2 linked regions of the Homo sapiens genome follow. The protein of the gene in region 1 interacts with the protein of each later gene in a biochemical or structural test. Each region holds a gene or a part of one and is shown in the gene's direction. Other genes may lie near its edges. The genes, in order: INSIG1 and PCK1.

Region 1 (3,174 bases):
AGTATTACAAAGCATGACCTATTTCCAATGTCTGTTTCAACAAACTGCTGGTAAGGTGGGTTATAACACAGGCATCAGATACTAATAAAGGTTTGTGGCAGAAACCTCCCTTCAGATAAAGGTTCAATCCCTTAAATTGCAGTTAGAACTTTCAGGAACCTATCATACCCTAAGCATCACCATGCTTTGATAAAATTGGGTGTTTCCTTTATATAGATATTAATTTAGTTAAACTTTCACCAATATCTTACACTTATATAACAGGCTTTATATAAGGGCCTCAGCAGCGTAATTTCACCTGAGGCAGAGAATTATCCTAATTTTGCAGGTGAGAGCTGTGGCTCACGGGGCCAGAGCCATGAAGACGGTGCAGGGGAGCTGGGAGAGCTGGCCTCGGTCTCCAGTTCTCTGCACATGTCCCACCTCTCAATCTTGTTGCTTCAGTCAAAGAAAGTGTCAATCTTTCCCATGTTAGGACCTACTTAATTGGTAATTAAAATATTTATACATTTAGTGCTAATTTTCTCTTTCCTTTTTTTTTTCCTTTCTACACATAGGGTGTTCCTGAAAAGCCCCATAGTGATTGAGTCTTCAAAACCACCGATTCTGAGAGCAAGGAAGATTTTGGAAGAAAATCTGACTGTGGATTATGACAAAGATTATCTTTTTTCTTAAGTAATCTATTTAGATCGGGCTGACTGTACAAATGACTCCTGGAAAAAACTCTTCACCTAGTCTAGAATAGGGAGGTGGAGAATGATGACTTACCCTGAAGTCTTCCCTTGACTGCCCGCACTGGCGCCTGTCTGTGCCCTGGAGCATTCTGCCCAGGCTACGTGGGTTCAGGCAGGTGGCAGCTTCCCAAGTATTCGATTTCATTCATGTGATTAAAACAAGTTGCCATATTTCAAAGCCTTGAACTAAGACTCAATTACCAACCCGCAGTTTTGTGTCAGTGCCCAAAGGAGGTAGGTTGATGGTGCTTAACAAACATGAAGTATGGTGTAATAGGAATAATATTTATCCAAAAGATTTTTAAAAATAGGGCTGTGTTTAAAAAAAAAAACAAAACAAGAAAAGCAGCAGTGATTATAGAGAGGTCACACTCTAAGTGGGGTCGCGGCGTGGCCACGCTTCACGGTCACGCTCGTCCGTCCTGCAGTGGCGTGTTTACATGGTCACACGTGTGTGTATCACCAGTGGGTCAACTGCTTGTCATTCCTCCCGTGGCAGTTTGTGTAGACAATCTTACTGAGCAAAAGGCAATGAAAAGTCTTGGTTCCCACACTGCGATATATTGGAATTTTCACCTCAGTTTATGAAGTTTATTTCGAAATCCATAGTCATCTAAGAATGAATACCTGTCTGCCATGTATTTCAATCTTAGTGAGCCAAAATTGTTTGTTTGTTACTACAGAATAGAGATGACTGTTTTTTGCCACAGCCCTATGGAATTTGCAATCTGTGATTGCCTTGTAAAAAGGAGAGTGCATATGGCACTGCATTAAACGTGTGGTGTTTCTAGTCAATGATATTGGTGAGCACAATGTATTCATTTAATGGCATAGACCATACCAGACCTAATTTGCAAGTATTGGGTCTTAAACTTCAAGTGCAATGTATATGAAAACCAATCTGAGCCTTGTATCTCTTAAATATTTATTTTTTTTAACGTGTGAGATGTTCGAGAGAAGGTTCTCCATTCATTTCAGTGCTGCCTGGAGGAAACTCGGCAATGATTTCTTTCAGTTGTGAAGTTCCTTTCGTGTTACACCCTCCACTGAACCCTCAACCTTCGAAATACTCCAGTTTTGTGGGTTTGGTCATTTTTACTTATAAATTTACCTTTTTGTATTTTGCAATTTACATGTGTTTGGTTTGTTTTAAATTCTGTGAAAGTGGCTTGATTAAAAGACTCCTTTTAAATGGAAGCCACCAGTCAGCAGAATGGAAGCTTAGAGGAACTTGCCTGTGAGCGCTGGTCTTTGTGTTTGGTTTTGTGATGTAACGATCTTTGCTGGGGTTTTTTGCTTTGTTTTGAGGGAAATGTCTTGGAGTAAATTTTAAGTTCCTGGAGTTAATTTGTTTTACAGGAATTTTGTTTTTTAAAAAAATAGGATCATTCTGAACTTTGGAATGACCCCCTTATATATTTTCTGAAAATGAAAACAGTTACATGAAAAAAATTTCCAATGAAGATGTCAGCATTTTATGAAAAACCAGAAGTTATTAGATGAAAGCAGCGAGTGAATCTTTAAAACAGACTTGATCACGCACACACAATAAGTCTTTCTCTCCGAAACCGGAAGTAAATCTATATCTGTTAGAAATAATGTAGCCAAAAGAATGTAAATTTGAGGATTTTTTTGCCAATAGTTTATAGAAAATATATGAACCAAAGTGATTTGAGTTTGTAAAAATGTAAAATAGTATGAACAAAATTTGCACTCTACCAGATTTGAACATCTAGTGAGGTTCACATTCATACTAAGTTTTCAACATTGTGTTCTTTTTGCATTCATTTTTTACTTTTATTAAAGGTTCAAAACCAAGTGTTGTATTTATGTTTGCTTTTTAAAAAACAGTTGGGGTGGTGGTCTCTGTGTAGGATGTTAGAATTTGTAATGGAGAAATATTTTGCAGTTCTTCAAATTTTACTGAATTTTGACACAACCTCTTGGGAAGTATTTGAATCATCCTTCAATATACACAGGACATTGGTTCCAGGATACCCCACGTATGCGAAAATCTGCATACTCAAGTCTGGCACTTGGCCCTACGGAACCTGCGTACACTAAAAGTCAGCCCTCCGTATACGTGGGTTTCACATTCAGCAAATAAACCATGTTTGGTTGGAAAAGCTCCATGTATATAAGTGGACCCACAGGTTCAAACCCTGTGTTGTTTAAGGGTCAACAGTATGTGTTTTTCTTATGGTAGAAAGTTTTAAGTGCAGCACGAGCTGAATTGAACCTGCCACCTTACCCCTCCTCACCACAGGCACCCGGTTTTCAGGCAGGAGGAGCGGGCATGCCTGGCCTGTCACAGGGGCAGCTTCCCTGCTGCCAGCCGGCGTGGCTGGAGTTACTTGCACTCACAGGTTATCACGATGGGATGAGAACTGAAGAGATGCGTTGAGCACCAGGAACATTAATGCTAGGCAGGCTTCACATT
Region 2 (4,828 bases), on another chromosome or scaffold:
GTGGAAAATTGTGGAGGAAGCAAGAGTCGTAAACGTATCAAAGTTGCATATGATGCTTGGATGAAAAGAGATAAATGCATATTCTAGGGAGGGAAAAAAGATTTGAGAAGTTGGCATAGAAATTAGTCCGGCAATATATAAGAGTATATGTTCTGCTTTGCCTGGCACTCACTACTGCTTCTCTGGTTTAAAACTCTCCAGGTCATTTAAGGGCCATCAACCCAGAAAATGGCTTTTTCGGTGTCGCTCCTGGGACTTCAGTGAAGACCAACCCCAATGCCATCAAGACCATCCAGAAGAACACAATCTTTACCAATGTGGCCGAGACCAGCGACGGGGGCGTTTACTGGGAAGGCATTGATGAGCCGCTAGCTTCAGGTGTCACCATCACGTCCTGGAAGAATAAGGAGTGGAGCTCAGAGGATGGTGTGTCCCTGCCAGAGGCCTTGGTGTGCCGGGCTGCAGGGACTGCCTGTTTGAGCCAGGCACTCACGAGCCTTTCTCTGTCTTATAGGGGAACCTTGTGCCCACCCCAACTCGAGGTTCTGCACCCCTGCCAGCCAGTGCCCCATCATTGATGCTGCCTGGGAGTCTCCGGAAGGTGTTCCCATTGAAGGCATTATCTTTGGAGGCCGTAGACCTGCTGGTGAGGCTCTCCTTCATTTAGGCTGGGAACATGGGTGTGCTGGGTACCGAAGGGCATCTGTGAAATCTCTCCTTTTCCATGACCTTGTCAGAGGGTGCCCAGGGGCTTCCTTTCTTGAGCTTCCTTCCCAAAGATCCAGAATAATTGGCAAGTTCAAATGTAGAACCAACCCTTCTGGTCACCTGGAACCTTTCTGAATCCCTGATCTATTGTAGCTTGATCAAATTTTACTTTTTACTTTGTGGCCTCAGTCATGTAACTTTGAGTTAGCAGTTTTCTGCAATTTAGCTTGGTGAACGCAAAACTAGCTCGATTACAAAGTTATTGTCTTGCCGTGTCTTTCCGTGTTGTGAATAACACCACTGGTTGTGGAGTCTGAATTTCAAAGCCTCTGATGAACATTTCTCTTTTTTTTTCCTGCTAAAGGTGTCCCTCTAGTCTATGAAGCTCTCAGCTGGCAACATGGAGTCTTTGTGGGGGCGGCCATGAGATCAGAGGCCACAGCGGCTGCAGAACATAAAGGTAAATCAAAGTCCTGATCTGAAACCACAGAGAAGTGGGATTAGAGCACTCTTCGTCACTCTTATGTCTCTCTCCTTTTCTGTGTCTGTGTGTGGGGAGAGAGAGAGAGAGAAAGAGAGAGAGGAGAACAAAGCATGCTAATGTCAACAATCAATGGCGTCAGTCTTGCCTAGGAGAGCCTCATTTACTAATGAACTCCCTCTCTGTTTAACAGGCAAAATCATCATGCATGACCCCTTTGCCATGCGGCCCTTCTTTGGCTACAACTTCGGCAAATACCTGGCCCACTGGCTTAGCATGGCCCAGCACCCAGCAGCCAAACTGCCCAAGATCTTCCATGTCAACTGGTTCCGGAAGGACAAGGAAGGCAAATTCCTCTGGCCAGGCTTTGGAGAGAACTCCAGGGTGCTGGAGTGGATGTTCAACCGGATCGATGGAAAAGCCAGCACCAAGCTCACGCCCATAGGCTACATCCCCAAGGAGGATGCCCTGAACCTGAAAGGCCTGGGGCACATCAACATGATGGAGCTTTTCAGCATCTCCAAGGAATTCTGGGAGAAGGAGGTGGAAGACATCGAGAAGTATCTGGAGGATCAAGTCAATGCCGACCTCCCCTGTGAAATCGAGAGAGAGATCCTTGCCTTGAAGCAAAGAATAAGCCAGATGTAATCAGGGCCTGAGTGCTTTACCTTTAAAATCATTCCCTTTCCCATCCATAAGGTGCAGTAGGAGCAAGAGAGGGCAAGTGTTCCCAAATTGACGCCACCATAATAATCATCACCACACCGTGAGCAGATCTGAAAGGCACACTTTGATTTTTTTAAGGATAAGAACCACAGAACACTGGGTAGTAGCTAATGAAATTGAGAAGGGAAATCTTAGCATGCCTCCAAAAATTCACATCCAATGCATAGTTTGTTCAAATTTAAGGTTACTCAGGCATTGATCTTTTCAGTGTTTTTTCACTTTAGCTATGTGGATTAGCTAGAATGCACACCAAAAAAATACTTGAGCTGTATATATATATGTGTGTGTGTGTGTGTGTGTGTGTGTGTGTGTGTGCATGTATGTGCACATGTGTCTGTGTGGTATATTTGTGTATGTGTATTTGTATGTACTGTTATTGAAAATATATTTAATACCTTTGGAAAAATCTTGGGCAAGATGACCTACTAGTTTTCCTTGAAAAAAAGTTGCTTTGTTATTAATATTGTGCTTAAATTATTTTTATACACCATTGTTCCTTACCTTTACATAATTGCAATATTTCCCCCTTACTACTTCTTGGAAAAAAATTACAAAATGAAGTTTTATAGAAAAGATGGATTTGCTTTGCTTGGTTTTTCTTATTTGAGCTACCAAGAGGAGAGAACTCTGATTAAATATCTTGTGATTTAAATCCTGCCCCCTCCCCAAGAAGGTGGGGACGTTCAGAATCACACTTGAAGAGGGGGTGCATTGCCTGGTCCCAGGGAGAAGGAGGGAGCAGATGGGGAGGAATGAGGCAGGGAACCATGGTTGGGGTTTTCTGAATTTGCTGAAGCCACTAGTTGGCATCCTTTAACAATTCTACAAACCTTTAGATGGTGAGGCTTATGTGGCAGGACTGGGAGGGTTTAATGCATGCTTTTTGACAGTTTGGATCTGGAGGGGTCTCAGGCTTCCACAAAAATTACATTGTGGACAGTTTCATAGGATTTTGCCTTTTAACTCTTCAAAGCAACAGTTTTCTCAACTGTCATCCCCGCGGGGGAGCAGAGGAAGACAAGTGAGAAGGAAAAGGGGACAGGATCTGGGTTGAGCAAGCATTAATTGAGCGCCTTCTGTATCCCGGACATCATGCCAACACCATGGGCTGCCCGAGAAGAGAGGTGGGTGGTTTGGTCCCCAGCTCTGCCTTGAACCCTCACCTGCTCTCCTCTACTCCCAGTGTTTATTGGATATTCCAGAACAGTCCAAACGAACCATAAACTTTATATCACAGATTCAATCTGTGTAAATACTATTATCTTCAAGTTGTAGTTTCTTTCTTGGGCCCAGGCTGTGAAATTGGCTTCACCCCTACCACACCCCAGCGGGCAGGCTTGTTCTTATGTCACACTCCACCCCTCCAGTCTCCTCAACTGGAAAACTTGCCTCTTTTCCTCACTTCCTCTGCTCCTTACAATGGCTTCATATGGAAGGTGAAGCTGAGATCACCCCAATTTTACAGGTGAGGAAACTGAGGTCAAGCTAGGAGCGTCCAGCGGGGCTGAGAAATTGCCAGGATTTCCTTCCCCATTAAGGAGCTGAGAGTCTTAGCTCCAGACACGTTGGCTTGTTAGAATATCAAAACCACCGAAGGGGAAAAACCACTTACTGGAATTAAATGCTATCTGCTGTATTAGTTTAAATCAGTGGCGTTCAAACTTGTTTCTCCTTTTCACTGCGGAACACGTTCTTGACATGTACTTGACTCAGAGTCCCATGTCTAAAGGAGACAGAGCCCAAGGCAGCCCACCTGAAGCTGGGGAGGGAGTCCAAAGTGCAAGCCACCTGGTCTCCATTTCCCCGCCCCTTGGGGGCCTTTGGGCAGCTCCTTGGACCCCTGAAAGAGGCCACCAGGATAAACTTTGTTAAAATGCATGCCTTGTGCCCCACTGTCCTATTACGGGCTTTCAGTAGTCTCCACTCCCTCGGCAGGCAAAGACACTGGCCATCTCCAAATTCCCTCCCCTCCTGCACAGCATCAGCCACCTGGCAAGCAGTCTCACATAGGACCATTTGCCAGCAGGCCCTGCAAGCCTGGGGGACAGCCTAGAGGAGGTGACTTACATACACAGCATAAGAGTTTTCAGGAGACCAAAAAGATTCAATATATGTCATTAACTCCTGACTCAGTTTCCCCAAACCATGCCTCCTGAGTGCTCCCTCTGTCTCCAAATCCTGATTTTTGTGCGCGGACCCCTGTCTACAATAAACAGGATCCTATGACTTCTTTCTTCAATGTTCTCTTGTCGTGCCTTCAGATGATGCAAAGTATGTAAGCTAAGCCCACTTGCAGGAAGCTCACAGAAGGCAAGAGGCTCATCACTTGAAAATACGGTTGGAGTGAGATGGAAAGCCCAGAGTCTCCTGATTCCTGGTCTACCACTGGACCACATGACTCCAAAACCAACACTGTGACTGACGTCCTCTACTGGAGTCCAGTGTAAGAGCTGTCCCCTGACCTCCAGGAAGCTGTGTTGCAGTCTGGGTTAAAGACCAGAAAACAATAGTTACACAGCAAATGTTGAACCAGGACAACAAACCTGCCCTTATTCCCAGTCGAGTCACTTAGGGGGCACTGACAGGTAGGCAGGCGGGGTGGCTAGGTGGGGCCGGGGCACACTTGGGAGTCAGGAGTTACAGGGCTCTTTCTCTTCTCTCCCTCTCCCTGGGGACCCACCCTAACCTGGACACCCCCGGGCTGCTCACTCGGCCCTCTGGATGCCAACAGCATGCACCTTCCAGAGTGCACGGTTTTGGCTGTAAGACCGCAGGTCATGGGCCCTGTTGAGCTCCCTTGACCTGCAGCCCTGCCAGAGGGCACCGAGCCAGGGGAGCAGCTTTTGCTTTGTCCTCACCTTTAGCAATTGCAGCGATGAATTCATCTATGGGAAAGAGCTGGCCACCTGCTTC

What was found.
Region 2: the proteins of INSIG1 (region 1) and PCK1 form a complex in vitro, tested with the Homo sapiens proteins (one study listed by BioGRID).

Annotation. Positions count from the first base shown.
Region 1 is NC_000007.14:155,307,684-155,310,857, forward strand, and holds the end of INSIG1 (insulin-induced gene 1 protein), read left to right. Parts: intron 1-557; coding exon 558-587; coding exon of another isoform or gene 588-675; 3' UTR 676-2,552; downstream 2,553-3,174. UniProt on the Homo sapiens protein: Oxysterol-binding protein that mediates feedback control of cholesterol synthesis by controlling both endoplasmic reticulum to Golgi transport of SCAP and degradation of HMGCR.
Region 2 is NC_000020.11:57,563,968-57,568,795, forward strand, and holds the end of PCK1 (phosphoenolpyruvate carboxykinase, cytosolic [GTP]), read left to right. Parts: intron 1-201; coding exon 202-426; intron 427-514; coding exon 515-646; intron 647-1,072; coding exon 1,073-1,168; intron 1,169-1,382; coding exon 1,383-1,837; 3' UTR 1,838-4,154; downstream 4,155-4,828. UniProt on the Homo sapiens protein: Cytosolic phosphoenolpyruvate carboxykinase that catalyzes the reversible decarboxylation and phosphorylation of oxaloacetate (OAA) and acts as the rate-limiting enzyme in gluconeogenesis.